Linked DNA regions of Homo sapiens: all the other regions are linked to region 2. The links come from fine-mapping of genetic effects on gene expression. A gene starts in region 2. Each other region holds a variant in brackets. All regions are shown on one strand. Distances are between the middles of the regions. Region 1 overlaps FRMD4B (FERM domain containing 4B). Region 2 holds the start of FRMD4B (FERM domain containing 4B). Region 3 overlaps FRMD4B (FERM domain containing 4B). Region 4 overlaps FRMD4B (FERM domain containing 4B). Region 5 overlaps FRMD4B (FERM domain containing 4B). Region 6 has its middle 160 kb from the start of MITF.

Region 1 (4,091 bases), 140 kb before region 2:
TTTTGGTCAATGTTTGTTTGTTTATCATGTTTTTTGAGACACAGTCTCAATGCCTGTAGTCCCAGCTGCTTGGGAGGTTGAAGCAGGAGAATCTCTTGAACCCAGGAGGTGGAGGTTGCAGTGAGCCAAGATGGCACCATTGCACTTCAGCCTGGGCGACAGAGCGAGACTCTGTTTAAACAAAAATCCCAGCATTTTGGGAGGCTGACGTGGGCGGATCACTGAGGTCAAGAGTCTGAGACCAGCCTGGACAACATGGTGAAAACTTGTCTCTACTAAAAATACAAAAATTAGCCGGGCATGGTTGTATGTGCCTGTAATCCCAGTTACTTGGGAGGCTGAGGCAGGAGAACTGCTTGAACCCAGGAGGTGGAGGTTGCAATGAGCTGCACTCCAGTCTGGATAACAGAGCAAGACTAAAAATAAATACACACAGATGTTCATCACAGCATTATTTATATTAGCTTTATGGGGAAAAAAAGCTAATATAAATAAGGCCATGATGAACATCTTTTTTCCCATTATTTATATGGGAAACAAGTAATATTTGTAACAATAGGGGAGTCCATCATGTCCATCAATTTGGTAAAATAAGATGGATTACAGGAACTGTTTTAAATACTTTACAAATGCAATATTAATTCATTTAATCCTCACAGCAATCCTATGGAGTGTGTATTATAATTGTAAGTCCCATTTTACAGATGAGGAAACTGAGGCTTGGAGATTTTAAGTAATTTGTTCAAGATTACACAGGTAATAAGTAGCCAAGCTGGCATTTGAATCAGGCTGTCTGGTTCCACAGTCTTTGCTCTAACCACTACAACATTGCCTCATGGTATTTTATTTTGCCTGACTTTCTTTGTGTGTGTGTGTGTGTGTGTGTGTGTGTGTGTGTGTTTTTAGACAGAGTCTTGCTCTGTTGCCCAGGCTGGAGTGCAGTGGAACGATCTCTAGCTCAGTGCAAACCTCCACCTCCACCTCCAGGTTCAAGCGATTCTTGTGTCTCAGCCTCCTCAGGAGCTGTTATTACAGATGTGTGCTGCCATGCACAGATAACTTTTGTATTTTTAGTAGAGACAAGGTTTTGCCATGTTGGCCAGGCTAGTCTCAAACTCCTGGCCTCGAGTGATCCGCCTATCTCGGCCTCCTAAAATGCTGGGATTACAGAAGTGAGCCATTGCACCTGGCCTTGGCTGATTTTCTTTTCTTTTTTTTTTTTTTTTTGTGACAGAGTCCCACTCTGTCATCCAGGATGGAGTGCAGTGGCACCACCTTGGCTCACTGCAACCTCCACCTCCTGGGTTCAAGCAATTATCTCGCTTCAGCCTTCCAAGTAGCTGGGACTACAGGCGTCTGCGAACGTGCCAGGCTAATTTGTTTTTTTTTTTTTTTTTTTTTTGAGACAGTTTCACTCTTGTTGCCCAGGCTGGAGTGCAATGGTGTGATCTCGGCTCACCACAACCTCTGCCTCCTGGGTTCAAGAGATTCTCCTTCCTCAGCCTCCCAAGTAGCTGGGATTACAGGCATGTGCCACCATGCCCAGCTAATTTTGTATTTTTAGTAGAAACAGGGTTTCTCCATGTTGGCCAGGCTGGTCTCGAATTCCCGACCTCAGGTGATCCACCTGCCTCGGCCTCCCAAAGTGCTGGGATTATAGGCGTGAGCCACTGTGCTCGGCACCCGGCGCCTGATTTTCTCAGAAGAGTTTTGTAACAAGGCAGGGTGCGATGGCTTGCACCTGTAATCTCGGCGCTTTGGGAGGCCAACATAGGCAGATCAGCTGGGCCCAGGAATTTGAGACCAGCCTGGGTAACATGGTGAATCCCTGTTTCTACAAAAAATACAAAAATTAGCCAGGTGTGATGGTGTGTACCTGTAGTCCCAGCCACTCAGGAGGCTGAGATGAAAGAACTGATTGAGCCAGGAGGTGGAGGTTATAGTGAACTAAGATCATGCCACTGCACACCAGCCTGGGTGAGAGAACAATGCTCTATCTCAAAAATAAACAAAAACAAAATAAAACAAAAGAAAAACAAAGAGGAGTTTTAGAACAAAACTTTGGAGGAAAAACATATCCTCTCTATTCAGGGGAGAAGATCAGATAGGGAGAGCATGGTAATTTGCAAAATGCTCCCACATGTCCTGAAAACCAACCTGCAAAGCCATTGTTTTGATTAACCCCAATTTACAGATGAGGGAACCGAGGCTCAGA[C/A]AGGATAAGTGGCCACTCAGAGGGATGTTGCCAGTCTGCGTGATTTCCAGTCCCACGCTCTCTCCACTACTTAGTGTAGTTTGGACAATTTCAAAACAGTGTGCGCCACTTCAACCTCGTGATCACTCAGGAAAACCACCAGGAACAAGCTCGAGTGAAGGCAAAGGTCTGGACTGGGCTTGCCCAGAATTAACTCGCCAACCTTGATGTCCTAGGGCTCAAATGTTTGAACAACTGAAGGACTGTCCCTTTTAGGCCTTCCTTTGCCTCAGGCAAGGGATCTTCCCTAAGGAAGGTTTGTGAAATTACCCTTTCTTTTTCTATTCTCCACCTCCCCCATAACTATAGGTTATTACAGCTTCTTCAGACCAACCTTAGTCTCAAAAGTCTCATCAGAGGTAGATAAGAGACCAGATAGGATGATAGTAATAATGAGGATAATAATAACTAAATTAATAATAATAGCCCAAGGGTGTAGATTACTTGCTATAAGCCAGATGTTGCCCTGGGCAACGTTTACATACATTTGATTCTCATGACAGTTTTATGGGAAAGGTACCATTTTACCGATGAGGAAACTGAGGCTCAGAGGGTGTCAGTCACAGCCTTGACTGGGGCTAAGTGGGGAAGGTGGGTTAGCAATCCATTGAGTGTGAGCTTTTGGGCCCTGAAACCCTCATTTACAAATTGACTTTAGAATCACCTCCCGTATGATTTCTTATCCAGGGTTGTTTTTTAAAAATCACCCCCATAAATGACTGTGTTCCTTGCATATCTGATATTCCCAGGAAACGTGGCTTTTCTGGAGAAGACAACAGTAGAGACACAGCAGCTTTTTTCTGAGTCTCACTCCGTCACCCAGGCTGGAGTGCAGTGGCGCGATCTTGGCTCACTGCAACCTTCGCCTCCCAGGTTCAAGCAATTCTCCTGCCTTAGCCTCCTGAGTAGCTGGGATTACAGGTGCCTGCCACCATGCCCAGCTAATTTTCTTTTTTTTGAGACGGAGTCTCGCTCTTTTGCCCAGGCCGGACTGCAGTGGCACTATCTCGGCTCACTGCAAGCTCCACCTCCCGGGTTCACGCCATTCTCCTGCCACAGCTTCCCAAGTAGCTGGGACTACAGGCACCCGCCACCGCACCCAGCTAATTTTTTTGTATTTTTAATAGAGACAGGGTTTCACCGTGTTAGTCAAGATGGTCTCGATCTCCTGACCTTGTGATCTGCCCGCCTCAGCCTCTCAAAGTGCTGGGATTACAGGCGTGAGCCACCGTGCCCGGCCACCCAGCTAATTTTTATATTTGTAGTAGAGACAGGGTTTCACCATGTTGGCCACGCTGGTCTGGAACTCCTGGCCTCAAGTGATCCTCCCTCCTCGGCCTCCCAAAGTGCTGGGATTACAGGCGTGAGCCACCATGCCCGGCCTCAGGCGTGAGCCTTTAATGATACTAATGGTCTGTAAACTACCTTATACTCTTGTTTTTTTTTTTAAACTCCTGCCCCTTTCTTTCCATTAAAAACAACTGGTGTTTGATTTTCATGATTTCTTCAAATTTCTTAACCTAGAAAAATGTAAATACACACACACACACACAAATATATATATATAGAGAGAGCACAAAACAGAACTGGTGGGAGATTGTGGTGAGGAATCATGGTGTTTTAAGTGGCATCCTTGAACATTCTACCAAAGCCGAATGGGAAGATGAGGAGAGTGTTGGGAGTTTCCGAACTGAAGTACAACTCCGTAACTGGAAGTTTTCAAGGTTGGAAGGCATTATTTTGTTAGTCCGTTAAGGGGCACATTATTCAAAGACTTGGCTGGGAATGAGTGCTAGGTGATCTGTAAATAATCTACGAGTAACGTCTACCAGGAGTC
Region 2 (4,091 bases):
CACAGCACACTGCCTGACTACCACCATTATTTTAGATGTTCTTATCAATTATGATATGGTATTGGCTCAGTCACCATCCATTTTAGAGAAAAGAAAAAAATACATATATTTTAGTAGCTCAGTGTCTCAAATTGCTATTCTGCATAAAAATTATCAGTCAACCTTATAAAGAATCCATAAGGTCTCAGGTTTCTGGAATCTTTATTTTTGAATTGGTCAGTAACAGTATTACAGATAAGCCATAAATCCTCTGAATCCTTGGGGAGTGAGGCACAGAGTCACTCTGGTTGGCTACAATATTTGCGTTCCCTTTTTGAAAGTTTCTCAAACACTAAAAAGGAAAAACAAAATTACATAAGGGGCACTTATTCTACAGACCAAACTGAACAGGGATTTCCCAAGAGAGGAAAAAAAAGGCTTGAAAGACAGACACACTTCTGGCTCCAAAAAGCCAGAGAGCTATGTAATGTGGCCAGATGGGATATATCCACAATTCCCTAATACTCTCAAACTCCCACATGCTGCCCTGGTTCCCAACCTGCCTTTCAGATTCCATTTCAAAATGCAAGATATCACAGATATGTTATACAAAGCAGAAGCAGTGAAAGCACAAGTTCAAATGTTCCTCATATTTTAACAAGGGTGACAAGGGGACGCTGACTCTTTAGACTTCCACAGGCTAACCTTAGGTGCTGGCCTTTTCATTTTGCCTGATTGATGGAAGATTATGGTTTGTCAAAATCAAGTGCTTGATCATGTATGAGACACAATATAATAAGACATAAATTCTAGACATATTAGGAACAGGGTCAAATGGGGGGAAATCCAGGAACTGCAACAAAGCTATTCCACATCACAGGAAAGAAAATATGATATTATCTTTCCACAGTAGACACCAAGTATATTTCTAAACAATGCAGATTTTTAAAAATCTCAAATATATTAACAACCAAAGCACAGAACTTTTAAATTCATAAATTACTGTCTAAAAAAAAAAAAAGAAATCCAGGCAAACTGCAGTACCAGAGAGGATGAATGGTCTCCTAGTTGAGCAAAGTTGCTGCATTTTTTGCCTGCAGGATGGGACCGAGCAGAGAAATAAAGGGGCTGTGTTGTGTGACAGGGAGTAAATCCTAACATGAGCATTCCAACGTGTAGCCGGGCCACCCCTCCCTTCCCCAGCCTGTCATCCTCCTGCAAAGTGTTCACAATTTGCTGTCCTTCCTTCCAAAAGCCAGTAGACACAGAATCAGCTTTTCCTGGCTCTGCCTTACAAGTTGGGGCTGCCTGATGGAAAACTGAAAATCCAACGGAAGGATAAAAATCCACCAAGGCCCCCTCTGCCAGCAAATTGGTGTGAAACCGTTGCTTCAGAAGCAGCCACTCCCACCCCCAATGAAATTAAAAAGAAGGACTCATTTGAATGTCTAAGTGGCTTTCTGAAGACCCTCTGTTGCAAAGCAACAGCCTCCCTAGTCAAGCGCCCGCCAGTACACCATTGCTCTGTAACAGATGTCTGCAAACGCTGGGACTATCTCGCAAGTGCCCCCCATGCCCGATTTGAAAAATTCACAAGCTCTGTCAAGCAATAATTACCTAGAGCTGCTGAGCGTTTGACCCAAGGGCCAAGCAGTCTGCTAGGAGTTTAAGAAGAGCTGGGGGGAATAAAATCATACAGGTGGAGCCTGCTTCCCACGAGTGCCCGGCATCCTGCTGGGGCCCTCGGGTGCCGCGCGCTCCAGCTCACCTGGTACACGTCCTGCAGCCCGCACCACGTCCGCAGCACCTGGTGGCAAGCCCGCAGCCTCTCCGTGTACCATCTCCGCAGCGTGGACACGGTCAAGTTCCATACGAAGCGGCTGCCGCTGAACAGCAGGTCCTCCACGCCACACATGAACACCGAAGCCATGCCTCCTCCTTCGCTCTGAACCCGGGCGTCCCGGCTCTCGTACGTGCAGCCCCGACCCCAGCGGCCTGCCCGCCTGGGCTCCCGACGCCGGCTTCTGCTGGCAGCCGGGGGGTCAAGCCTGCCACCAAACTCGTCTTTCACCGTGCGTCCTGGCCAGGCTCCGGCGGCATGCCCTGGGATTGGGTGCCCGCCAGCCAACGGCTGCGACTGGCACACAGAAGCCCAGTGTCCACCCCCGCCCGCTCGCAGCGCCGAGCAAGCTGTGCTAAGCTCCACCAAGCTGGCCCTCGATGCTCCCGGGGCACGGGAAGCCCTGGCCGGCGAGGACTCCCCCTGGCGCTTCCCCAGGGCGCGGGGCAGGGACGGAAGCGGAGCAACTCTTTGCAGGCAGAGAGGGGAGCTGCATTTCAGCACACTTGGCTTCCACGTCTTGCGCGCGCGCGAACACACACACACACAGACACACACCCCCCACACCGGACGAGTGGTCTCCTAATCTGCCTCGGGGAACACCTTACTCATCTTGCTCTGTTCACACTGATAAAACACCTCTGGGCAGCCACAGATGCAGAAGAGAGAGAGAGAAAAAAAAAAATCTCCAAGGCATCCCTTTGGACCCTACTCCTGGGGGAATAGCCACGAATGTTTCCTTGGTTCTGCTGGAAGCAGGAGATGAAGGCAACAGTCTCAAAGCAACAGGCGGCCCTAGAACCTGCCTTTGCTCCTAACTTGAGGGTCTCAGAGAAAATGACAGCCTCCTGTGGTTGCCAGCAGGAAGGCAGGTTTCCTCACACCAAGATGCTGCTAATACCAATGCAGCAGTCAGGGAGAAAAACAGAGTTCTTGGTCCCTTGTAAATAGCTTGCCGTTACTAGTGCTGGGAAACAGAAGCCCATAAGAGAATCGGTGGTTTAGTTCTGGAAAATTCAGCCTCTGGACATGTCTAACCTCACCTGCAAGCACCAACCTGCATGGGTAGTTTATTCTCCCCTCAAAACCAAAGGAAACTGTTCCACCACTCATGAAGTCACTAGATAATTAATCTTATTTATTTATTTATTAAAGTTTTCCCTCGGGAATTGATGCTGATTGTTGGAAACATTTGGAAAAGGGAGCTCAAGGAGTCTCGCCTACCACCAGTCTCTGTCTTCCTTTATTTATTTTTGAGACAAGGTCTGTTGCCCAGGCTGGAGAGCAGTGACTCAATCATAGCTCACAGCTGCCTTGAACTCCTGGGATGAAGTGATCCATCTTCCCACCTCAGCCACGGGGACTACAGGTGCTAAGTTTATTATCATTATTTTTTTTGTAGAGATGGGGTCTCACTATGTCGCCCAGGCTGGTTTCAAATGCCTGGGCTCAAGCAATCTTCCAGCCTCAGCCTCCCAAAGTGCTAGCGTTACAGACATGACCCATTGTGCCCAGCCTCCATTTTCCCTTAGAATGTATGAAGATTTCTCATAGCAAAAGTGCTGTAGCAAATTTCAGGATGGAGTTTTTTCCTGAATCCATCTGTAAGTCAATTGTCTGTATTTTCTTGGCTGTTTCACATCTGGGTTGTTATCTATGCTATTAAGTGGCACCAAAAGGAAAGGTAAGGCACCAAAGCTTTTCTCCTGAACTAGCCCAGAAGACTCCAGAACAGATTATCGACAAGTAAATCAGCTTGATTTCAGGTATCAAATGTGCTTTTATAATCTTAATTCAGGTGAAACTCAATCAGTCAAAAGACGAAGAACACAAAATCTGTCCTCAAAGTGCCTGTTGTTTTCAGTGACTGTAATCAGAAAACTTTTAAATGAGATTTCTTTCGTTAATAAAATTGCCCAAGAGTTTTTGTTGAATTAGTTAATAGGACACAAGACTTGGTCCAAGATTTGCAAACCTTTCTTCACAATAAGTCTTCTCTATGTGCCATCAGTATTAGTATTGATGGTTTTTTTTTCAAGATGATGGTAACGATGAATCTGAATATAATAGATTTTACTGAATCAAAAGAAAATGAACTTAGCTTGAAAAAGAACTGTCATCATGCTGAATGGAAAACTACTGAACTTCAAAAATGCCCTATTAGTACGAGCAAATGGTGGTGGTACTTTTTTTTTTTAAACGATGCAGTTCGACTGTGTTCTCGGAAATGTCAGGCAGCCAAGGGAATACCAGAATAAAACCTACAACAGGT
Region 3 (4,091 bases), 34 kb before region 2:
AATAGGAACACTTTGACACTGTTGGTGGGACTGTAAACTAGTTCAACCATTGTGGAAGACAGTGTGGCGATTCCTCAGGGATCTAGCAGTAGAAATACCATTTGACCCAGCCATCCCATTACTGCGTATATACCCAAAGGATTATAAATCATGCTGCTTTAAAGACACATGAACATGTATGTTTACTGTGACACTATTCACAATAGCAAAGACTTGGAACCAATCCAAATGTCCAACAGTGATAGACTGGATTAAGAAAATGTGGCACATATACACCATGGAATACTGTGCAGCCATAAAGAAGAATGAGTTCATGTCCTTTGTAGGGACATGGATGGTGCTGGAAACTATCATTCTCAGCAAACTATCGCAAGGACAAATAACCAAACACTGCATGTTCTCACTCACAGGTGGGAATTGAACAATGAGAACACTTGGACACAGGAAGGGGAACAGCACACGCTGGGGCCTGCCTTGGGGTGTGGGGAGGGGGGAGGGGGGAGGGATAGCATTAGGAGATATACCTAATGTAAATGATGAGTTAATGGGTGCAGCACAGCAACATGGCACATGTATACATATGTAACAAACCTGCACATTGTGCACATGTACTCTAGAACTTAAAGTATAATAATAATAAAAAAAGAAAACCAAATGAGAAAATAAACCAATACAAGACAACAGAAGTGTGCATACCTTTACAGCCTGATCTACAAAAGCTTCCTTTAAGGAAAAAAAAAGCAACTGAAGTATACAGCAAGCCCAATACCTTCCTTTCTTAGATTGCTGTTATTGGAATAATAAATTGATTGTTTAACCTTGCCAAATCACATAAACATATATTAATGTATAGTTTACCTGTACTCAGGCTTACTTTTCCAGTTTAGGAAAATATTGCATTTAAAATTTTTTCTAGTTTTCCAACATTAAGCAAGAAAAAAGTCTTAATTGGAGCTTCACAGAATCTACCTCAGGGACAAACGTAAGTCTCATACTTGAATTATGATCCCGAGACAGGCCTCTGCTGAGAGCTCACTAGTATTTTCAGGTTGCCAAAATATTTTTGAAACAAAGAGAAAGTGTTTTAGTATGGTTTTACCTAGCACTATAGCTTTTTGTGATAAGAGACAAGACATGTAGTTCTTTTCCTGGGGTCTTTTGCACACCTGTGCACAGGCTTCTGCTAGCAATTGGAAACCATGCAGAACAGAAAGCAGAATCTCATTTGGATGCAGCTCCCACTTTTCTATTCCAAGATGCACGCACCCATGTAAAGAAACTCTTGCTTCATGAAATTCAGAGATGCTGGAAATTAGGCAAAATCATCCTCTGGCCCAGAAAAGGCAAAGGGTGGACAGAGCATAGATTCGGAACTCAGGAGATCCAGAATCCAGGCTGTGCCCTGCCCCTAACGGGATAGGAAGTCTTAGAAAAATTCCTCCTCTTCTCTGGATTTTAATCTCTTCAGTAACAGAATGAGGAGATTGGACAAAGTGACTTACAAGGTTTCTTCTGGTTTAAATGTTCCATGGCATAAATATATCTAACAATTCTGCTCAGCCAATAATATTTGTCCACCACCCATCACCCTGCCTCCTGATAGTTACTGGGAATTCTCTCCATG[G/C]GTGAGACATAGTACCTGTCTGCAGCAACCTCCATTCTAGTAGTAACAACTTCCCTGCATACTTCAAATGTAGGATCAAACACAGTGGAACACACAGAGTATGCTCTGGAGTGGGACTTGGTATATCTGGGAATATATTAGGCCCTCTGCTAAGAGCTGTAGTTTCTGACCCCTGAAAGAGCTGCATAACAAGATAGTCTTACTTCTCAGGATGTTCTATGGCCTGAATCTTCAGAACAGGATCATTTATAATGAGGCCTTAGGTCACCATAATGTCACTCTGAGAATCCAGGTCACAGGACTGCATTTGGATAAGATTATATTCCTTTTCACTCCTTCGGACATTAGATACCTTTAGATAGGACCGATTTAGAGACAATGGACTCATTTCTAAGGCTACACTATTATGTTGTTACATTATAGCAAAAGGGTACTATTCCAGTTCCTATTGTGATATATTTAATTTCTTTGATGTTTCTCTTCTCTACCCAATCCTGCCCACTTCCTCTACAGACTTCCTTCTATCCCCAGGAGTTTTGCAGTCTACTGGATGAGATAATTTCCTTTGTTTTTTACCCAGATATTCCTCCCCTCCACCATCAACATCTACCCATCAAGGAAGAAAAATGGCCACATGGAGTTGGACTTAATGAGTTTGCCATAACCACATTACAAGGCAGCAAAGAAAAAAAACCTTCCCTTTAATAAGGATGTAGGACTTCCTCTGACAAATCATAAAAGTTTTATTAATTAATTGGAAGCCGTCCCCAAAAATGGCATTTCCGAGGTTTCTATCTTGAACTGCTGAATTCTGATCACATAGAATCCTCACCACAAACTAGACTGGAGGACAAAATTCAATTTTCCTTCTTCTTTCTGGAGGCAAAGCAGGGACCCACATCAAAGGATCCTTTCAGATGGGCTGCTAATGAGCTCTAGGACACCACGGAATTTTTGTTGCCAAGTGTTCACAAAAACAGGGAAGGCCCCAAACACATCTTGCTGATGAAACGATGAACAATTATAAATCAAAAAGCATTTCTGTGTTGCTTACTGACACAGTTCCTGCCCTCTCTCTGTCTTTTCTACATCCATAAAGAAACTCCAGTATTTAAAATTTAAAAAAAAAAAGAAGAAGAAAAAAGGAGAGTGGTGGGAGCAGGGGAAAGGGTGATGAAGTGGAATTACATACTTCATATTTGCCAAAGTTCTAAAGCAAAATAAGAAATCAGCCTTTCACGACCTTTAAAGGAGCAAAGATAGCATTAAAACAATGACAGGAAAACCCTCCAGACGATGGGCGTCTTTAAGGACCATCTTCACTTGGTATCAAACAGAGCACATCCAACTCCGTTTTGGAAAAAGTAATTCCTTCACAAGAGTGAAGATAAACATTTCTTGTAATTTCCTTTTCTGCAAGTTGGGTTCTGCAATATTAGTTCTTAGATTAGTCCACCCCCAGTACAATATTAAAATCTGCCCAAGATTTTGCTATGAAATGCCAGTCAAAGCTGAAGAAGCACCGTTACACAGTCTGCAACTGGAAGATCATAAAAAAAAATCATTCTTACCTCCGAACCACCATGACCTCGGCTCATTTAAAGGAACTGAAGAGAGTGCTTAAGACAAAAGACACACGTATTAAGCACTTGTGCGGTGTGTGTGTGTGTGCGCGCGCGTGTGTGTGCGCGCATGTGCTTGCATTTTCTCCAACTACAAGCCAGTGGAAGTAGGAACTTAAAAACTCCCGACGCCTTCCGCTGCCATATAATCTCAAGGAAATGACCATACTGTTTGTTTCTTTGATTAGAAACAAAAGCCTTTCAATATGAGTCACGGGAGAAATGGGAAAATAAAAACAACTAAAAAACTTCTGCTATTTCTTTTGGCCACTCAAACGCTTTCTTTACAACACATTTAAAACATATGATGAAATGTCATCTACTGTTTTCTAAACTTCCTTGATAATGCAAGCTTTAGGTTGGGTAATTATTCAGAGATAGGCGATGCCATGTATGAATCTAAACTTCTATGCATGTTCTGGATGAGGCTGGGAATTTAATGAATATAAATAAAAACAATATTTAACTCAACTTTGCTACTCACAGCCAGTTGATGTTAACAGCTTTTCCACTCAGAAAGAAACTTAGAATTCCATGGAACAACCTTAGTAAAATCAATCAGAGATGCCAGCCACAACAGAAAATCTTGGCAGAATGACGTGGTCTCAGAAAAGATTCATTTCACTATTTGCATTTAATGAAATCATTACTATTGAAGTCATTCAGTGAATAGGAAATAATCAAAATACATTATGCTTGAAGGCAGAGAGAAAAACATATAGAATACTGGAAAAATAATAAATTTACTTTTTTTAAAAAAAGAGAATGACTAAGTAAAAGTTTGTGACAGGGTATCATGCTTCTCCCTCCTGAAAAAAAGAACAGTCTGGAATTTTGCTCAGGAG
Region 4 (4,091 bases), 190 kb before region 2:
GACAATTATCTGTATCAAAAACTGAATGCTGGAAAAAGCAGCTGCTGTGGAAAATGTTCTTTCAAGCCACACCTTGGTACTCACCATCCTTGCATCTCATATGACATGCACAACCTATTTATAATTTGACTTTCTACATATTCTTTAAAAAATTAGCCTTAAAATTTTATTCAAAGCTGTCGCATACATACTTATTGACATACTTATTTATTCCCAAAATAATGGATTAAAAGATGAATTTCGAAGTGGTTTATGACCGAAAAAACAAACGAAATAAAGATGGCTTGCACGTTCTCTAATCCCAAGATGTTACCTGAGGAGATTAAACTGCCATTACTTGCCATGATGAACTGACTTTTCGTCTCCAGTGTCACCAGCTTGGAGGCCCTTTGTGTTCCTGTCTCTGTCAAATCCATTGCAATCTCATCTAAACTCCTGGCTGAAGGAATTTTTGCCTAAGAGGCATACAACAATGAAACAGAATTAACTCAAACATACTTCAAATTAATGAAACAATTAAGTTAACATACAATAAAAATAGCAACACAGAGGATAATTTAGAATTTTCACATATTCAAGTGGCATTCTTCAGACCAAAAAACAAAACAAAACAAAAACCCCACAAGTAGTTAAAATGTTTTAATAACTATACGTGATTTTCTCATGGTGTGGTTCAGTTACTAACTTTGAAGTGTCACCGGCAACATCACCGCCAGCAGTGTCACCAGTATATACAAACGTGCATGCCAAAAAGTTGGCCAGTCTTACAACTTTTAAAGCAGCTTATATATTGCCCATCATGTAAACATATAAAAAACCTGAAATAGTTGGAAGTTAAACGCAAAAAAATCTCAGAGAGCAAAAATATATGTGCTTGCATCTTTTGTGAGAAGGCTTATCTTCTGAACAGAATGCAAAAGGGGAATCTGTCCCTATAGAAATGATGCCAGTTACTTACTTTGCTTTGCTTCCGGTCCAAGTAAAACTGATGCTGACTAATTGCCATTACCCAAATGGACTTGATGAGAGAAGAGTTAGCATACCATGTTTGCACAAACAAGCCACTTTGCCCAAAGGTTCTTCTTGAAACTGAAATCCTGAAAGATTAAAGAAAGCACTCAAATAATTCCCCTCTGGCCCAGCATGATGCAAAATGTACCCTGCGAGCAGCATTGTAACAAAGCATGTTCCTCTTACCTGTCTTCTGTTGCAAAAACTCTTACGCAAATGGGGACCAAGTTTCTGATTTTCTCCTTTTACAACAAAACAATTCAGACCTAAGTAATCTCTTTCTGGATAAACAGCATGTTTAAAAACACATACACATGAACTCAAAAGCTGATAAAGAATCAGTCAAATTAGAGATTATACAAAAACATTTAGTTAGAAACTCTAAGGATGTGTAGCCATCACAAGTGGTAAGGAATAAATGGGATAAGATTTTAAAGAAACAGCAACCAAGTGTGGGGTGAGCACCTAATTCAAGGTAAAAGAGCATTTCAGATCTAGGTAGATTTGGCCGGCTCTGACATTATCAGAGAATGCACTTAACGATAATGGCTGAAAATATGCAAGTCCAAAACTGTCCAGAGTGCTGCTTGTACACCAGATGGAAAGAGGAAAGGGGACGGGGGAGGAGAGAGGAGGAGGGAGAGGGGAGAGGGGGAGCGGGGAGAAGGGAGGGAGGGGAAGTGAAAGAGAGAGAGACAGAGAGAAAGAAAGAGAGAACAGGCAAGAGGCAGACAGACTGTGTGTGTGTGACGTGGTACTAATGTTCTTTGTAGGAATTTGGCTTATCTCTTCAGGTCAC[C/A]TTTTTATCACAGGTATTTCCTCCCATCCCTCTGGCCTCTAAACATCCATAACCATCTCGGGACTGAAAAGTACCCACTAAGGACTGATTAAGAATTTCTCTTAAGGCCGGGTGCCATGGCTCAGCACTTTGGGAGGCGGAGACGGGCGGATCACCTGAGGTCAGGAGTTTGAGACCAGCCTGGCCAACATGGTGAAAGCCCGTCTCTACTAAAAATACAAAATTAGCTTGGCGTGGTGGTGCATGCCTGTACTCCCAGCTACTTGGGAGGTTGAGGCATGAGCATCACCTGAACCTGGGAGGTGTAGGTTGCAGTGAGCAAAGATTGCGCCACTGCACTGCAGTCTGGGTGACAGAGTAAGACTCTGTCTGGCAGTTGGGGGCGGGCGGAGGGGGGCGGGATTTCTCCTAAGATATTTGAGAACCCACATCCTGACTTCAGTTCATGTTGGTAATTTGGCTTTTTTTTTTTTTTTTAAATGACCAAGAACACCAACATTTTAAATGAGCAAAAGATCTGAATAGACATTTCTCTACTAAAGATATAGGAATAGCTAAGCAGCACATGAAAAGATGCTCAGCCATCATTAGTCATGAGGGAAGTGCAAATCAAAACCACAAGAAGGTACCACTTCAACCCACTAGGATGGCATAAACTATACATGCACACAAAACTAAAAATAACAAGTGTCGGTGAGGATGTGTCGGCATTGGAACCACATATACTGCTGCTTGGGATGTAAAATGGTGCAGCACTTTGAAAAGCAGCCTTGCCATTCCTCAGAGGGTTAAAGATAGTTACCATTTGACCCAGCAATTCCATTCCTAGGTATACACCCAAGAGAAATGAAAACATATGTTCATATAAAAACTTGTACACAAATGTTGATAGCAGCGTTATTTGTATAGTAACTGTGTCATACAGAGAAACGTCTTTGATCCTCACCTTCGTGGATCATGAACTTCAACAGCAAATTTTTTCTCACGGAAATATAAGTTCTCCAGCTGTTTCCATTGGAATAACTAAAGAAAACAGAAAAGCCAGGAAGTATTATTTATGCTTATTTTTACTAATTCTATAAATCAGCTTAATAATCAAACAATTATAAGCTCCAAGAAGGTACACTGATACGATGAAACATGAATATGTGATTCAGCCTTTTTACAAATCAACTATGACCTGAAACCATTTTATTCCTTCTTCTGGCAGCAATCTTTAACTATTAAGATTCACCTCGGCCGGGCGCGGTGGCTCACGCCTGTAATCACAGCACTTTGGGAGGCCGAGGCAGGTGGATCACGAGGTCAGGAGATCGAGACCATCCTCGCTAACACGGTGAAACCTTGTCTCTACTAAAAATACAAAAAAAATTAGCCGGGCGTGCTGGTGGGTGCCTGTAGTCCCAGCTACTCGGGAGGCTGAGGCAGGAGAATGGCGTGCACCCGGGAGGCGGAGGTTGCAGTGAGCCCAGATCGCGCCACTGCACTCCAGCCTGGGCGACAGAGCGAGACTCCGTCTCAAAAAAAACAAGATTCACATCACCAATAAATCTTCCTTGAACAATAAAACCAACCATCTGTGGAAGAACATGTACACTATTTTTCCTCTGACTCAACTATATAATAAGGAAATCTGCACAGATTCCAGTAAGCACCAGCCTTCTCAAAGATGTTGATTTCATAGTTAAATGGAAAGATATTCAAAGGGATATTTCAATAACATCAGAGATTGAATTTCAAAAGAATACAAAGTGAAAGTAAAACGGAACCCCCATGCAGGGGTGATTCTCTGAGATACCACTTTCCTACCTATGAAGAGTTCCCCTAAATGCCACAGAAACCTAGCACCAGTAATTGGGGGCAGAGAAGGGGTAGGAGGGAACACCAGAGCCTCTTCTTGGTTTCTGAGCTAGAACCTCCAGTTTTTGAACATAGCTAGCTCCCAGTGTCTGTACACTCTGATATACACACTACTGATACTCTATTGCGGCACTCAGTGCCGTCAGTTTGATTGGGAGGAACAAACTTTACTAGCAATGTGCATTTGAAAACCAAATAATTTGATAGAAAGCAGCTCATTCACAGAATTGAGGATGCCTTGCTATGTTTTCTGGGCTGCTTCCTAAGCTCTTTATAAGACATTGTACTATCCTGAGCCTTGGTTTGTCCTGTCAACTTGGACTTCATGGTCAAATTCCTCTTCTCTGCCCCCAGACTTGATTAGGGAAATAACAGCAGAGAGTTTCATTATATTATTAGACTTCGGCTGGATTTTAAAATT
Region 5 (4,091 bases), 50 kb before region 2:
AAAAATACAATAGTGGGACTGGGATTAAATGATCTGGGGAATTTAGGGGAAACATTTTGCTTCTTTGCTGTGCCTTTTGGATAACTCAGAGGTTGAGCACTGTCATCTATAGACCCAGTTAACTGTGACAGCATTCTTCCTACTGGGTACCTTCCACTCAATGACCCCTGGGTTTCAGTAGTTGCTAAATAGGTGATTTGAAGTCTGAGCACCTGAATCCAAATCTTAGCTCCACTGCTTTATCCACTGTGTGACTAGCATCCATTCACATATTCACAAATATTCATCAAGCTCTTATTGTGTTCCAGACTTTATAATAGGCTCTGGGGACTCAACAGTGACACAAGCCAGAGAGTCAAGTGCTCCTCTCTCAAAGACTTGCCAGCGAAGAAGAAAGCCAGAAAACAAGCAAATCAAGCAACACACAGGGTGATTTCAGGTCGTGTTAAGTACCATGAAAATGAGAATACAGACTAATGTGATGGGGAGAGTTGTTACTTTAGACAGAGCAGGCTGGGCCAGTGGTTCATACCTGTAATCCCAGCACTTTGGGAGGCTGATGCAGAAGGATCGCTTGAGCCCAGGAGTTTGAGGCTGCAGTGAGCTATGAGTTATGCCCTGAGCTATGAGCTATGGTCACGCCACTGCACTTCAGCTTGGGTGACAGAGTGAGACACTCTCTAAAATGCTATAAATAAAGCAGCTAGGAAACGGCTATTTGAGGAGGCAACATTTAGCCAGAAATAGCAATGATGAGGATTCAGCCTTGGCAGATCTGAGAAAAGCATATTCCAGACAGAGGCCAACAAGTGCAAAGGCCCTGAGGCAGAACATGCTTGGGTTAAGACATTGTTGCATAACTTTTTTTTTTCATTATTGCATTTTTTTTTTTTTTTTCCGAGACAGAGTCTTGATCTGTTGCCCAGGCTGGAGTGCAGTGGCACGATCTTGGCTCACTGCAACCTCCACCTCCCGGTTCAAGCAATTCTCCTGCTTCAGCCTCCCGAGTAGCTGGGATTACAGGCACGCACCACCATGCCTGGCTAATTTTTGCATCCTTGTGATCTGCCCACCTCGGCTTCCCAAAGTGTTGGGATTATGGGCATGAGCCGCTGCAGCCGGCCCCATAATTGCACTCTTAAGGAGCCTCTCTAGACAATTTTTCCCCCAATACCCTCCTCCCCCATGAAATGTTAATAACACAGATATACTTTATATCTTATCTGCTGGGCAGGACTGAGTTTTTTTTTTTTTTTTCTTTTGAGACAGAGTCTCACTCTGTCACCCACACTGCGATCTCAGCTCACTTCAGTCTCTACCTCCTAAGTTCAGGTGATTCTCCTGCCTCAGCCTCCTGAGTAGCTGGGATTACAGGTGCGTGCCACCATGTTCGGCTAATTTTTGTATTTTTAGTAGAGACACGCTTTCACCATGTTGGCCAGGCTGGTTTTGAACTCCTGACCTCAAGTGATCTGCCCACCTCAGCATCCCAAAGTGCTAGGATTACAGGTGTGAACCACCACACCTGGCTAAGAACTGAGTTTTGAAGGGCTGAAAACTATTGTAATACCTAAGATTTTCTTTACCCCTCAAGAACCAATTATAACTTCCCTTGGGGGGTGAAGTCACCCTATGGAGAATGCACAGTTTAAGAAAAAAAAGGCAACAAATGTGGTTGGAGGTTGGTCACCAAGAGGGAGAGAACAAGAGACAAGCTTAGAGTTAATGAGGGGCTCATCAGTGGTTCTTGAAGTGTGGTCTTAGGACTCACAGCAGCATCAACTGGAGCCTGTTAGGAATAGAGAGTGGCACCCGGCAATCTGTGTGTTCACAACCTTCCAGGTCACTCTCATGCCTGCTAAAGTCTGAAACTACTGGGCTAGAATCATTCACTGCATTGTAGGCCATAGTAAGAAGTATGGAGTTTGTTTCAGATGCAGCAAAAAGCCAATGGAGGCTTTTAGGCATGGAGAAGATAATCTGGGGCTATATATAAAGGATAAGTCTGCTTACTGTGAGGAGACCAAACTGGAGTGGGTGAGGCAAAAGTGGAAGAATGAGAAATAATCCAAAAGGCTTTTGCACTGGTACTTATCTGTAAAATGGGCATGCAAAGATGACCAAATTCATAAGGTTGTTGTGAGGATCAAATGAGTGAATACCCACAATGGCTTGGCTGGGTGTGGTGGCTCA[C/T]GCCTGTAATCCCAGCACTTTGGGAGGCTGAAGCGGGTGGATCACATGAGGTCAGGAGTTCGAGACCAGCCTGGGGAGAGAAACCCTATCTCTACTAAAAATATAAAAAATTAGCTGGGCATGGTGGCGCATGCCTGTAATCCCAGCTACTTTGGAGGCTGAGGCAGGAGAATTGCTTGAACCTGGGAGGCAGAGGTTGCAGTGAGCCAAGATCATGCCACTACACTCCAGCCTGGGCATCAGAGTGAGACTCTGTCTCAAAAAACAAAAACAAACAAACACAGTGGCAAAGACATGAAATCAACCTAAATGTCCATTAATGGTAGAACAGATAAAGAAAATGTGGCACCACGCTACCTGACTTCAAACTATACTACAAGGCTACAGTAACCAAAACAGCATGGTACTGGTATCAAAACAGAGATATAGACAAATGGAACAGAACAGAGCTCTCAGAAATAATGCCACATATCTACAACTATCTGATCTTTGACAAACCTGACAAAAACAAGCAATGGGGAAAGGATTCCCTATTTAATAAATGGTGCTGGGAAAACTGGCTAGCCATATGTAGAAAGCTGAAACTGGATCCCTTCCTTACAACTTATACAAAAATTAATTCAAGATGGATTAAAGACTTAAATGTTAGACCTAAAACCATAAAAACTCTAGAAGAAAACCTAGACAATACCATTCAGGACATAGGCATGGGCAAGGACTTCATGTCTAAAACACCAAAAGCAATGGCAACAAAAGCCAAAATTGACAAATGGGGTCTAATTAAACTAAAGACCTTCTTCACAGCAAAAGAAACTACCATCAGAGTGAACAGGCAACCTACAGAATGGGAGAAAATTTTTGCATCCTACTCATCTGACAAAGGGCTAATATCCAGAGTCTACAATGAACTCCAACAAATTTACAAGAAAAAAACAAACAACCCCATCAAAAAGTGGGCAAAGGATATGAACAGACACTTCTCAAAAGAAGTCACTTATGCAGCCAAAAGACCCATGAAAGAATGCTCATCATCACTGGACATCAGAGAAATGCAAATCAAAACCACAGTGAGATACCATCTCACACCAGTTAAAATGGCAATCATTAAAAAGTCAGGAAACAACAGGTGCTGGAGAGGATGTGGAGAAATAGGAACACTTTGACACTGTTGGTGGGACCGTAAACTAGTTCAACCATTGTGGAAGACAGTGTGGCGATTCCTCAGGGATCTAGCAGTAGAAATACCATTTGACCCAGCCATCCCATTACTGGGTATATACCCAAAGGATTATAAAACATGCTGCTTTAAAGACACATGCACACGTATGTTTATTGCAGCACTATTCACTATAGCAAAGACTTGGAACCAACCCAAATGTCCAACAATGATAGACTGGATTAAGAAAATGTGGCACATATACACCATGGAATACTCTGCAGCCATACAAAAGGATGAGTTCAGGTCCTTTGTAGGGACAGGGATAAAGCTGGAAACCATCATTCTGAGCAAACTATCGCAAGGACAAAAAACCAAACTCCACGTGTTCTCATTCATAGGTGGGAATTGAACAATGACAACTCATGGATGCAGAACGGGGAACATCACACTCTGGGGACTGTTGTGAGTGGGGAGAGGGGGGAGGGATAGCATTAGGAGATATACCTAATGTTAAATGACGAGTTAATGGGTGCAGCACACCAACATGGCACATGTATATATATGTAACAAACCTGCACGTTGTGCACATGTACCCTAAAACTTAAAGTATAATAAAAAAAGAAAATGTGTCACATATACACCATGGAATATTATGCAGCCATAAAAAAGTGAGAAAATGTCCTTTGCAACAACATGAATGGAGCTGGAGGTCATTATCATAAGCAAACTAATAAAGGCA
Region 6 (4,091 bases), 190 kb after region 2:
GTATAGTGCTCATGGAAGCACAAATTATTCCCTCCAATCTGATTGAGAAGGATAATAATAGGAGATGAGATAGATGTAGTTAGGGCCCAGATCCTACATGGGCTCCAGACCCCCTTAAGAACTTTCAATTTTGTTTGAAGTTTCCAGGAAACCATAGGAGGACTTTAAAGCCAAAGAGAGGCACCCTCTTCTTCACCCATTGGACAAGGTCCACTTTGGCTGCTGGGTGAAGATCAAACTGCTGTGGGGGATGGATTTAATCAATGACTAAATTGTATTATTAACATATAATTTTCAAAAAAGGGTAAAATCCTGATGCTCATACAAATATTTAAAGAAAGCACTTGTTAAAGATTTTATTGAATTCATTAATCACTGAGGAAACTGGCAGTTGACCCAGTGAGAGGCAAGGATGGCTTGCAGGTAGCAGTGAAGATAGAGAGAAGAGGGATTCAGGATCACTTGTAGAGTTAGAGCTGAAAGAACTGGTTCTTGTTTTACCTAGAGTCTTGTTGCTAACTGATACGCAGAAAGAAACAAACCTTGAACCTCCAGAACTGGAAAAAGTGGGTAAGGAAGAGAAGACCTTAGCCTTGTAAAGAGGGTCAGGTGAATTAGCAAGAAAAAGCAGAGCTAGAGGCTGCAGGCACCTAGTTTTGAGAAAGGGAGTGAAACAGAAGGCAAACGACACTGAGGCCTGAAATCTGCACCAAGTTAACTGTACAATGTGCCATTGTGGCTGGTAATAATCCTTGCCTATACTGAACTGCTAGTCTGGAAATGCCCTCACACTTAGTGTGAATAGTGAATTTGGATCTGCAGGGGAAATGGGACAAGAAGGTACCTGCCTGTAAGAGAAAGGGGTTATAGCAGAGGTTACAATCCTCAAGGGTTCACCGGTAGGTGGAAATACAGCCCCTCACTCCTTGCTCATCACTACATCACCCCGTGATCCAATAATTTACCCAATATAAGTGGCAGGAGAAGGCCAATTATGGGAGTCTTGTTTGGGGGCTGCCTGAAGGGACTTCTTCCATTACGATTACTGTGACCTTGTTTGATAGATGTGAAAATCAAGTCCTAAAAAGGCTAAAAGAGCTGCCGAATGCCACAAAGAAGTGGCGTTGTCACTGGAAACCAGAGTCTCACTCAACAGTACTCGTCTCACTGCACTGTACAGCCCTAGTTCTACCATGCCAATTCGTTCAGAACAAGATCAGACTCAACTTTCTGTATCAGCACTATCCAAAAGCACTTGCTGCAATGATAGAAATGTATAATTATGCTGTCTGATACATTAGCTGATAGCCACATGTAGCAATTGAGTACTTGAAATATATTACTGAGACTGAGGAACTGAATTTTTAATTTAATTTAAATGTAAATAGACACATGTGGCTGGCTAATAGCTACTCTCTAGGACCATGAAGTTTTCTACCACAGCAAACTGTACATTTCTTAATAGGGCTTCATTGTGGACATTTGTCAATTCATTTTTGCTTGAACACCTTTCCTAGGTTTCAGCTCCTGGCCTTGAACAGTCCTCCCACCTCAGCCTGCCAAGTAGCTGGGATTACAGGCCTGAGCCACCATACCTGGCAACAAGAGTATGTT[CTTTTAT/C]TATTATTATTATTATTATTATTATTATTATACTTTAAGTTCTAGGGTACATGTGCACAACGTTCAGGTTTGTTACATATGTATACATGTGCCATGTTGGTGTGCTGCACCCATTAACTCATCATTTACATTAGGTATATCTCCTAATGCTATCCCTCCCCCCTCCCCCCACCCCACAACAGGCCACAGTGTGTGATGTTCCCCTTCCTGTGTCCAAGTGTTCTCATTGTTCAATTCCCACCTATGAGTGAGAACATGCGGTGTTTGGTTTTTTGTCCTTGTGATAGTTTGCTGAGAGTGATGGTTTCCAGCTTCATCCATGTCCCTACAAAGGACATGAACCCATCCTTCTTTATGGCTGCATAGTATTCCATGGTGTATATGTGCCACATTTTCTTAATCCAGTCTATCATTGATGGACATTTGAGTTGGTTCCAAGTCTTTGCTATTGTGAATAGTGCCGCAATAAACATACGTGTGCATGTGTCTTTATAGGAGCATGATTTATAATCCTTTGGGTATATACCCAATAATAGGATGGCTGGGTCAAATGGTATTTCTAGTTCTAGATCCTTGAGGAATCGCCACACTGTCTTCCACAATGGTTGAACTAGTTTACATTCCCACCAACAGTGTAAAAGTGTTCCTATTTCTCCACATCCTCTCCAGCACCTGTTGTTTCCTGACTTTAACGATCGCCATTCTAACTGGTGTGAGATGATATCTCATAGTGGTTTTGATTTGCATTTCTCTGATGGCCAGTGATGATGAGCATTTTTTCATGTGTCTGTTGGCTGCATAAATGTCCTCTTTTCAGAAGTGTCTGTTCATATCCTTTGCCCACTTTTTGATGGGGTTGTTTGTTTGTTTCTTGTAAATTTGTTTGAGTTCTTTATAGATTCTGGTTATTAGCCCTTTGTCAGATGAGTAGATCGCAAAAATTTTCTCCCATTCTGTAGGTTGCCTGTTCACTCTGATGGTAGTTTCTTTTGCTGTGCAGAAGCTCTTTAGTTTAATTAGATCCCATTTGTCAATTTTGGCTTCTGTTGCCATTGCTTTTGGTGTTTTAGACATGAAGTCCTTGCTCATGCCTATGTCCTGAATGGTATTGCCTAGGTTTTCTTCTAGGGTTTTTATGGTTTTAGGTCTAACATATAAGTCTTTAATCCATCTTGAATTAATTTTTGTATAAAGTGTAAGGAAGAGATCCAGTTTCAGCTTTCTACATATGGCTAGCCAGTTTTCCCAGCACCATTTATTAAATAGGGAATCCTTTCCTCATTTCTTGTTTTTGTCAGGTTTGTCAAAGATCAGATGGTTTTAGATGTGTGATATTATTTCTGAGGGCTCTGTTCTGTTCCATTGGTCTATATCTCTGTTTTGGTACCAGTACCATGCTGTTTTGGTTACTGTAGCCTTGTAGTATAGTTTGAAGTCAGGTAGCATGATGCCTCCAGCTGTGTTCTTTTGGCTTAGGATTGACTTGGCAATGCGGGATCTTTTTTGGTTCCATATGAACTTTAAAGTAGTTTTTTCCAATTCTGTGAAGAAAGTCATTGGTAGCTTGATGGGGATGGCTTTGAATCTATAAATTACCTTGGGCAGTATGGCCATTTTCACGATATTGATTCTTCCTACCCATGAGCATGGAATGTTCTTCCATTTCTTTGTATCCTCTTTTATTTCACTGAGCAGTGGTTTGTAGTTCTCCTTGAAGAGGTCCTTCACGTCCCTTGTAAGTTGGATTCCTAGATATTTTATTCTCTTTGAGGCAATTGTGAATGGGAGTTCACTCATGATTTGGCTGTCTGTCTGTTATTGTTGTGTAAGAATGCTTGTGATTTTTGTACATTGATTTTGTATCCTGAGACTTTGCTGAAGTTGCTTATCAGCTTAAGGAGATTTTGGGCTGAGACGATGGGGTTTTCTAGATATACAATCATGTCGTCTGCAAACAGGGACAATTTGACTTCCTCTTTTCCTAATTGAATACCCTTTATTTCCTTCTCCTGCCTGATTTCTCTGGCCAGAACTTCCAACACTATGTTGAATAGGAGTGGTGAGAGAGGGCATCCCTGTCTTGTGCCAGTTGTCAAAGGGAATGCTTCCAGTTTTTGCCCATTCAGTATGATATTGGCTGTGGGTTTGTCATAGATAGCTCTTATTATTTTGAGATATGTCCCATCAATACCTAATTTATAGAGAGTTTTTAGCATGAAGGGTTGTTGAATTTTGTCAAAGGCCTTTTCTGCATCTATTGAGATAATCATGTGGTTTTTGTCTTTGGTTCTGTTTATATGCTGGATTATGTTTATTGATTTGCATATATTGAACCAGCCTTGCATCCCAGGGATGAAGCCCACTTGATCACGGTGGATAAGCTTCTTGATGTTCTGCTGGATTTGGTTTGCCAGTATTTTACTGAGGATTTTTGCATCAATGTTCATCAAGGATATTGGTCTAAAATTCTC

What was found. PIP is the estimated chance that this variant, and not a neighbour inherited with it, causes the effect. A credible set is the group of variants that fine-mapping cannot tell apart.
Region 1: its variant is the best candidate, but not a certain one, in a credible set for the expression of FRMD4B in CD4 T cells (BLUEPRINT, PIP 0.59).
Region 3: its variant is the best candidate, but not a certain one, in a credible set for the expression of FRMD4B in monocytes (TOPMed, PIP 0.60).
Region 4: its variant is the best candidate, but not a certain one, in a credible set for the expression of FRMD4B in whole blood (INTERVAL, PIP 0.75).
Region 5: its variant is the best candidate, but not a certain one, in a credible set for the expression of FRMD4B in whole blood (INTERVAL, PIP 0.68).
Region 6: its variant is the best candidate, but not a certain one, in a credible set for the expression of FRMD4B in monocytes after Pam3CSK4 (Quach 2016, PIP 0.55).

What each region holds. Positions count from the first base shown.
Region 1 is chr3:69,244,455-69,248,545 of GRCh38, forward strand. The region is part of intron 7 of FRMD4B (FERM domain containing 4B); the gene reads right to left. Among named protein-coding and RNA genes, the nearest start is that of LMOD3, 120 kb to the left of the region's middle. The variant C/A (reference allele first, on the strand shown) is at 2,216.
Region 2 is chr3:69,384,081-69,388,171 of GRCh38, forward strand. FRMD4B (FERM domain containing 4B) reads right to left here and starts at 2,008. Exons shown (of 23, transcript NM_015123.3): 1 at 1,748-2,008. The coding sequence starts at 1,909. RefSeq lists an enhancer at 1,475-2,085.
Region 3 is chr3:69,350,349-69,354,439 of GRCh38, forward strand. All of the region lies in intron 1 of FRMD4B (FERM domain containing 4B), which reads right to left. Among named protein-coding and RNA genes, the nearest start is that of FRMD4B, 34 kb to the right of the region's middle. The variant G/C (reference allele first, on the strand shown) is at 1,625.
Region 4 is chr3:69,195,942-69,200,032 of GRCh38, forward strand. FRMD4B (FERM domain containing 4B) reads right to left here. Exons shown (of 23, transcript NM_015123.3): 12 at 2,757-2,833; 13 at 959-1,097; 14 at 314-455. Among named protein-coding and RNA genes, the nearest start is that of LMOD3, 75 kb to the left of the region's middle. The variant C/A (reference allele first, on the strand shown) is at 1,811.
Region 5 is chr3:69,334,492-69,338,582 of GRCh38, forward strand. All of the region lies in intron 1 of FRMD4B (FERM domain containing 4B), which reads right to left. Among named protein-coding and RNA genes, the nearest start is that of FRMD4B, 50 kb to the right of the region's middle. The variant C/T (reference allele first, on the strand shown) is at 2,194.
Region 6 is chr3:69,572,723-69,576,813 of GRCh38, forward strand. No RefSeq gene overlaps it. Among named protein-coding and RNA genes, the nearest start is that of MITF, 160 kb to the right of the region's middle. The variant CTTTTAT/C (reference allele first, on the strand shown) is at 1,615.